Linked DNA regions of Homo sapiens. The protein of the gene in region 1 interacts with the protein of each later gene in a pairwise test. Each region holds a gene or a part of one and is shown on either strand. Other genes may lie near its edges. The genes, in order: MBNL3 and DAB1.

Region 1 (4,018 bases):
CCATTTCGGTATGTACCATTTGCTTTGTTAAGTTCTTGTAAGGTTTAATTCTAAAACCTATTAGCATTTTTAAACCATCCTTTCATGTCTACAGTTCTTTCAAAATCCCACTGTGCTTATAATACTCCGTGAAACTTGCCCCTGGATCAGATTCTTTGGAGAAGTTTAACATTACTTTACATTTTTTTTTTCTCAGCAAATTGCACGTTACTTAAAAAACATGTCCCAGCAACAACAATTAGGTATGCTCCAAATTCTTAAGGAAACAGGAATGCTTGTGTTGAGTAACTATCCTACCATGTGTCCAAAAGGGTAATGCCATGACCTCGTTCCTGTGGATAACAAAGGTCTCAAGGTATCTCTATTTTCTTTTGGGAACTCTACTGTCAGTGCACACACTGTGACAGATCTGCTTTTCATTTCACCTAAATAAAGAAAAGCATGCTAGAAGAGTGAGATAAAATAAACTGAGTAGCTTTAGAGATATAAAATTTCCAAATTTATCCCAGCAGACCAGATGGCAAAGGTCAGTACTAAAATCATAAACCATAAAACAAAATCTATCATTTCGAATGCCTTTTATTACCATTGGGAGAAAATGGTTTTGCTGAACATTTTAACTAAGACAGAAGACCTACTTATCTGGTTGTTAAAAAGATTTCCCTTTGGTATAAACGGGGAGTGTCCCCTTCTCTCTCTTGAAAGTTGGCAGCATGGTATGATCATCAGAACCAGTTATGTTCCCTAGTAAACTACAAATTGGGGTGAAACCTAGATGAACATTCAACAGGTAGACGCTGGTAAGGTAGTACTGCTTGTTTATTTATGGCTGGGGTTTATCCTGATGGGTCAGTGCCCAGTTCCAATTGGGTGGTGATTGTACTATTAAACTCATAAACCTGCCGAAGAGGTGTGAGACTGTGGATGAACTAAGTATCAACCCTTTATGTCTCTCTCTTTTTTTTTTTAAATACAAGCTGCTTTCTGTGAACTCAACCTGAGCTATATACATGAACAAGGTAAAAATGTCTCTTTTATAAAGCATGTCCACTATGAATCCTTAAAAATATAAAAAGCTTGAATTTCTTCATGAAGCCCTCCTTTATTTAATCTTACCTCTATCAAATTCTTATGAGCCAACTTGATCTCACTGCTAAGACCCTGCTGTGATCAGTTACTTAAAAGGGAATTTTATATTGATATTCACAAGTAACAATTGAAGGCCTATGATATAATATTTAGCTCTCTACGTGGAAATTTGAGGCTGACTTGTAACCTATGCATTCTATCAAACACACTCAAATAATCAGAAATGGACAGATGCATATGAAGCTATTTTCATAGCTTATAATTACCCCTTCAAAAGCATTTAAGACAAAAAGAATTTGGTAAAGTCTTTTTTAACATTCATTAACAGATTATGTTGTTCAGATCAAGGGAGAAAGTAAGTTTGTTCTACTTTGGTGCTCAGATCCTTCACGATGTAATGAGTTCAGTTCTGACAAAAAGTGGAGCCAGTCCAAAAATGGTACTGTGTCCTTGAAACCATAAACTACCAGGAAAAGGGAGCAATTTGCAGTATTTGGCTTAGACAGGAGACATGAGAGTCACTCTCACTTGGAATAGGGACTGACTTCTTTTGTGAAGTTCCAGTTGCAGCAAGATAAATTTCAACTCGGTATGAGGAAAACCTTCTTAATAGGGATGTTTGAAAATAAGTGTCTCTCTGTTGTGAATAGGCAAAGTCTCTGTCATGGGAGTCCAAACTATGAATGTTTGTGAGGAGATTTAGCTCACAGTGCATCTCCTGGGCTTCAGGGTCATGTCAGTGCTTTTTCCACACCCAGGGAACATGAGGTTTCCTGTGGGTTTTGTCCTTTACTGGGGCTGTTATGCCTTATTACACAAGGAAAGGTCCAGGGAGAAAAAGAAAGACATAGCAAGCAGCACATCAAAACAACGGACAGCTGTGGCAAACTTAAGTCACGAGAATTCCTGGTTCTCAGTGATCACACTGCAGTGTTACACAAATATTTTTCCTGCTTCCTACCTTTCAGTATTACTAAGCAGCACTAACTGTTCCCCCAAAACTGGCTTTCTACAGCAACTTAAAAGTCAGGACTCTGGGCTGCGCACGGTAGCTCATGCCTGTAATCCCAGCACTTTGGGAGGTTGAGGCAGGAGGATCACCTGAGATCAGAAGTTCAAGACCAGCCTGGCCAACATGGTGAAACCCGGCCTCTATAAAAACTACAAAAATTAGCCAGAAGCAGTGGTGCACGCCTCTAGTCCCAGCTACTCAGGAGGCTAAGGCTAGAGAATTGCTTGAACCTGGGAGGCGGAGGTTACAGTGAGCTGAGATCACGCCACTGCACCCTAGCCTGGGCAACAGAGTGAGACTCCATCTCAAAACAAACAACAACAACAAAAAACACACAACCACCCCCACAAAACAAAACAAAACAAAACAACAACAACAACAAAAAAAAAAAAAAAAAAAAAAAAAACCAAAGTCAGGCCTCTGCTCCCAACCACGTAGAAATTTCCCCCCAGACTAAGCAGGCTGCTGTCCTTGATACTATGCCTCTAGAGAGGAAAAGTGGCCTTAACCTTTAGGAAATTACAACCTACTTAATACCCTATCTTTTAAGTGCTGTGTTTTTGAAAGGCATTAAGGATGTTAGTAGCAAAGGGCCCATGAAAGTGGCTCACAGAGCAGAGGCAACTTTCTGCCTCTCTAGGATATTGAGGGTAGTGAAACTATAAAAGCACTCAAAAATAACTTACTGTTTAAATTATATAATTTACCCTTACTCTGAAAATGGGAGAAAGAGCACAGTAGGTTAAAAGCATTAGTAAGGCTTTTAAATAATTATCTTTAGAAAATCTTAGTAAATAAAGTAGAATAAATAGGTTCTTTCTTTTCCAGCTTATAACCTTGACTGTTCATATTAAGGTCCTCTCATGACCATCCATGAGTATGGTTACAGGATATTAGACAAATTGAGGAATATACAAAGCATTTACTCTGAAACAGGCCACAAGTGCAGGCCTTTTCTTACCATGGCAGAGGCAGCTGAATGGTTCATCTGATGATGAGCTGCCTTGAGTCTGGCTTGCAAGTGTGCAGGAGGATGAAAGTACTTGCATTTCTCCCGCGAGCATCGACCTTTGATGTAATCCATGCAGATTGTCACAGTATTATCACTCGCTTCAATCATGGAAGCATCAGTAGGGTGAGCATAGCGGCAATCATTCTCCCCACGGGTACAATTTCCACGCTGAAATTCTCGGCAAACCTTAGAACACACACATGCACATACACACGCATCACACTGATGACTGGAAGCTGACTGGCTTTTATTTATTTTGCTAGTGAATGTAACAGTAATTATATATACATTGAATATATTATGTGTGAACAAATCTAAAAAGATAAAGAATAATGTAAAGCCATATTCACTATGAGATATAAACAGACAGAATTTCTATTCCCAGAAAAAAATTCTATTCTCCCCAAAAGGAGGTTGTCCTTACATTGAAATAAAAATGTTTAAAAAAGTATTACTGAAAACCAGTTTTAATTCTCCAGTTAATACACAGCCTTAAGCATAATTAGTGTTTTTTTAAGTCCAAGATGAGTCTTTATCACACCATAATGCACTGGTTTTCCAAAGTCAACTTGTGAACCATAACTGAGTTATATGTACAATCAGATTATATTACAATACATTACTAGGCATTTAAGCGGCTGCAAATGGAGCTGACTTTGTAAGGAAAGACTAGTTATTTCAATGTACAAAGAATAACAATAGAAGAATGAAGGACTTCAATAAATCAAAAAGCTGTTTGAAATTTCTTTCAGATTTTCTTTTCTTAGGCATCGGGGTTATTTACTGCCTAGCACATCACTCTCAAAATGGAGAAAAAAGTTGAGGCACTATGAGACTAATTTACCTTCTGTGTTCATATAGCTTTACATTCTGCAATCGTAGAGAGTTATATTGTCTACTTTTTT
Region 2 (3,600 bases), on another chromosome or scaffold:
ATGGAATAAGTTTAATGGGTCGTGAATTTTGTGGAGAAAGGGAGGGTCTCTTGATGACTTTGTATGTACCAGCCCTGGACCTACTGGCTCCACAAGGAGTGCATTAGGCTAAATATTTTTAGCCCATTGACTCTGGAGGTAACAACCCTAAATGCTTCATTAAATTTTCATGGGTGAGTGTCAGAAGCTACGAGAAAAAAAAACACCCCAAAACAGAAAAGCACAAATCCATCACATTATCTTTGTTATTATACAGCTGGAAGACAGGAGTGTAGCCCCAAAAAGAGTAACGGTAAACTTTTTAAGGAAGGGTTGCCTGCCTCTTGCTTTCCTTTTCTGCACCTGGGTCCAACAGGGTGGTTTGTGTGCTGTGCGAATCTACATATTATGCACTTGATTTGATTCACCAGGCTCCTCTCTTCTCCTGCATTTCAGGCCTCTGGAGACAGGTATGCCACACAACAGGAATTTTCTGGAGTTGAATCTAGTCTCAAGGTGGAAGAATTTTCAGAATGACCCAATATTTTCTGCGACTTGGTGTTTCTAGGATCTTTGTGAGCTAGGACCCTAAGCAAGGAGCAACTGACTGTGTACTCGCTGGAGCCGCCTCCCGCACAGCTTCGAATCGGAGGATTGTTTACTCCCAGTCATTCTAAGAGCCGAGTAGGGGAGTCGCGGGGAGTAAGCCGGAGTTAACCGTGGTCTGCGTGCTCTCAGGGGCACGGGTCTCTCCTGAGGACTGACGGAAACTTGACACGTGCCAGCCTTCTCCCTCCCAACTTGCCGAACTTTGCCTGGGAAACCTCAGTCAAAACAGGAGCCGCCGAACCTGCACTGGCGGCTGGGAGCGAGCGCCCCCTCCTGCCAAGGGGCGTGGGGGCAACATGCCCTCGCGGAGACTCCCCTCGTGGTTTCGCCCTTCCTGGCACTCCATATATTTGGGTATGCATATGTTTTCGAGGCTTGGATAAAAGGGTAGATCTTAGAGAAAAATGAGAGAGGCCAGGCGGAGCTGCGTCCAGTGGTGGTGATGGGGGAGAAAACACTGGATACTTTGTGACAACCCCCCTCCCTTACCCTCTCCACGCTGGCGCGGCTGGGGCGGGGACCCCTCGCTCTCGGCTCGTCTCTCCCCCTTCCACGCTGGGATGGAGAGAGAGTGCAGGGGCTCCAGAGGCGCGACTGCAAGCCGCGGCGCCCCCGCTCGCTCGCTCGCTCGCTCGCTCGTTCTTCCACCTCCTCGTCGCCACCGCCACTCGGCTAAGCTCTCGGAGCGCGCTCCGGCTGCGCAGAGAGCGCCCCGGAGGGAGCCGCGAGGCCGGGGCGAGGGGCTCACGGCCCGGCGGCGGCGGCCGGGGAGCTAGCAGGTGAGCGGTGCCGCGGGGCGCCGGGCGGGCGCGGGGGGCGGCGGGGCGGGGGGCCGCGGGAGGAGGCGGGTCCGCGCGGGTGGCGGTCTCCTCCCCCTACTCTGACGCGGGGCCGGTGGCTCCCGGGGAGGATGGACCCAGCTCGGCGCTCGCCCGGGCTTCCCCGGGCTGCAGAGCGCGCCTGAGTGCCGCCGCCCGCCGGGCATGGGGAGCCGCTTCCTGGGCGGCTGCGGCAGCGGAGGAGGATGCTCTGGGCTAGGCGAGGTGAGGCGCGGCGGGGGCGCGCGGCAACCCTTGAGTTCAGCGCCGCAGGTGCCCCGCGAGGACAGGGCGCCGGGGAGCCAGGAGGCTTCGCTGGAGCCCCGGGGCGCGGAGGAGGGCTCCTGGGACGCGCCACTCAGCAGTTTGGCTAGGGGTGCTGGGAGGATGGCGACTGCAGCAGTTTTTCGCCTTCTCCCTCCACTTGCTGGGAGGAAAAGGGCGACTTCTCTTTCTCTGTCCTGCCCCCCATCCCCGCGCCCCTGTCTCCCTACTTCCGACCACGCGCGATCCTGTCTCCAGACTTGTCCACCCCTGACACGCGTCTCTCTCCAAGACCCCCTGCGCCCTCTTTCCTCCTGCGGTCCTGGCTATATCGGACCTCGAGCCTGCCTTCTCCCGCTGTCCTGGGCTCCCGAAACTCCCTCCCTCCCTCGCTGGTGGCCAGACCCTTTTCCTCATTCGGCCGAACCCCGTTCTCACTTCCCTACTCCTCCGTAGCGCTGAGATTCGGCTTCGACCTCTCGAAAAACCGACTCTATCCCAGTAATCCCAGCCCTTTCGCGGGCACCGTGAGAACTGGATCCCGCGTTCCTCGGACCCCGGCCTTTCTTCGGATCCTCTGTGGACTCTGTTCTCTGCCGCTCGTCCCCCTCCATCCACTCCCCAGCACCCCCTCCCCCCACGCCCAGCTAGTCGCCTCCCCAGCCCGCCCCTCTTCCTTCTCTCTGCTCCAGACTCGACGCTCTGACTTGGATGCAGAGAGCTCAGTTTTTTTTTCTACCAAGGAAACTTTAAATCTCTGTGGTTCGGCTCATAAAGCAGGCACACAAGAGGGTGTCAACCGCCGAGAGAACCCAGAGGCAGGGAGTCCGAGATGGGGGGAGGTCGTGTCGCGGCGTCTGAAAGGGGCCACTGGGTGAGTGTACAAAGTAAATTTCAAAACCAGGGTGGCTGCTGCAGCCAGGACCCTGCCTCCGCTGGCTGCGTCCCGAGGAGTATTATTGTGACCCCTGGTGGGAGGGCGCATCTTTTCTCTGCACTTTTTAAGGCGCTTTTTCTTTTCTCTGTTTTTGTTTTTTGGTGGTGCTGGTGGGCCTGATGGGGGGCAGTGGGCACAAGGGATCGCTGCCTGGAGAGGCGGACGCCACTTGGCTGCTCCCAGACCCGCCAGACTGTGTACGTTTCACTCCGTGTGAACTACCCCCAACCCCCAACTGCATCGCACAAATCCTCATTGTTGGGGGTCTGCTGGGGCACTTCCGCTTAGGCTGGGAGAGTCTGAAGGAATGGCGTGGGGGTGGGGAGGCCGGGGGCGCTTGGCTACCGCTCCGCTCTTGGCGGCGGGCGGAGTGGAGAGCGCCGCGACGCGGGCATCTGTGCGCTCCGGTGTGTATGTGTCGCCGAGTCTGGGGTGCGCGCCCGCGTGGGTCGGTGTCTGCGTGTGCGTTTGGATGTCGGCGCACGCCTGTGTTTAGCTCCATTAGAAAGAGGGGCGATGTAGGGCTTGCGGTAGCGAGAGCGCCTTTCTCCGCCTGGGAGCTGGACGGGGGCGAGCCCGGGGGCGAGCCCTCCTGCGAGCTGGATGCTCCAGTGCAGCTCCTAGCCAGCCGGCGGGGACCGGGGCGAGAATCCGCGCCGTCGTTTCTTCCTCCTTCCTGCTCCCTTCCTGCTGGCCGGTTAAATACACTTTAACAGTGTTGATAGTTTTGAATAAAGGCTGTGTGGGGGTTCCACTACACTTTACAACACTTAACGTTTTCAAGTAATCATATCAATTAAATTAAAGGTGGCTTACGTTCAGAACCGCCTAATTATCCAGTTCACGTTGGTACATTTATGTGCCAATTATAGGTCTTTGGGAAATCCATAAAATTACAAACCATCCCCACCCCTTGAATTAGCACCCATTGTTTTTGTGATCTCCGTGATGAGTGATTCTGGATGGCACCGGAACTGCGCAGGCACTAAGATA

What was found.
Region 2: the proteins of MBNL3 (region 1) and DAB1 interact in binary tests that used the Homo sapiens proteins (3 or more experiments, as listed by UniProt).

Annotation. Positions count from the first base shown.
Region 1 is NC_000023.11:132,387,785-132,391,802, forward strand, and holds part of MBNL3 (muscleblind-like protein 3), read right to left. Parts: intron 3,300-4,018; coding exon 3,063-3,299; intron 1-3,062. UniProt on the Homo sapiens protein: Mediates pre-mRNA alternative splicing regulation. Acts either as activator or repressor of splicing on specific pre-mRNA targets. Inhibits cardiac troponin-T (TNNT2) pre-mRNA exon inclusion but induces insulin receptor (IR) pre-mRNA exon inclusion in muscle.
Region 2 is NC_000001.11:57,421,961-57,425,560, reverse strand, and holds the start of DAB1 (disabled homolog 1), read left to right. Parts: upstream 1-1,500; 5' UTR 1,501-1,631; intron 1,632-2,448; exon of another isoform or gene 2,449-2,544; intron 2,545-3,600. UniProt on the Homo sapiens protein: Signaling adapter of the reelin-mediated signaling pathway, which regulates the migration and differentiation of postmitotic neurons during brain development.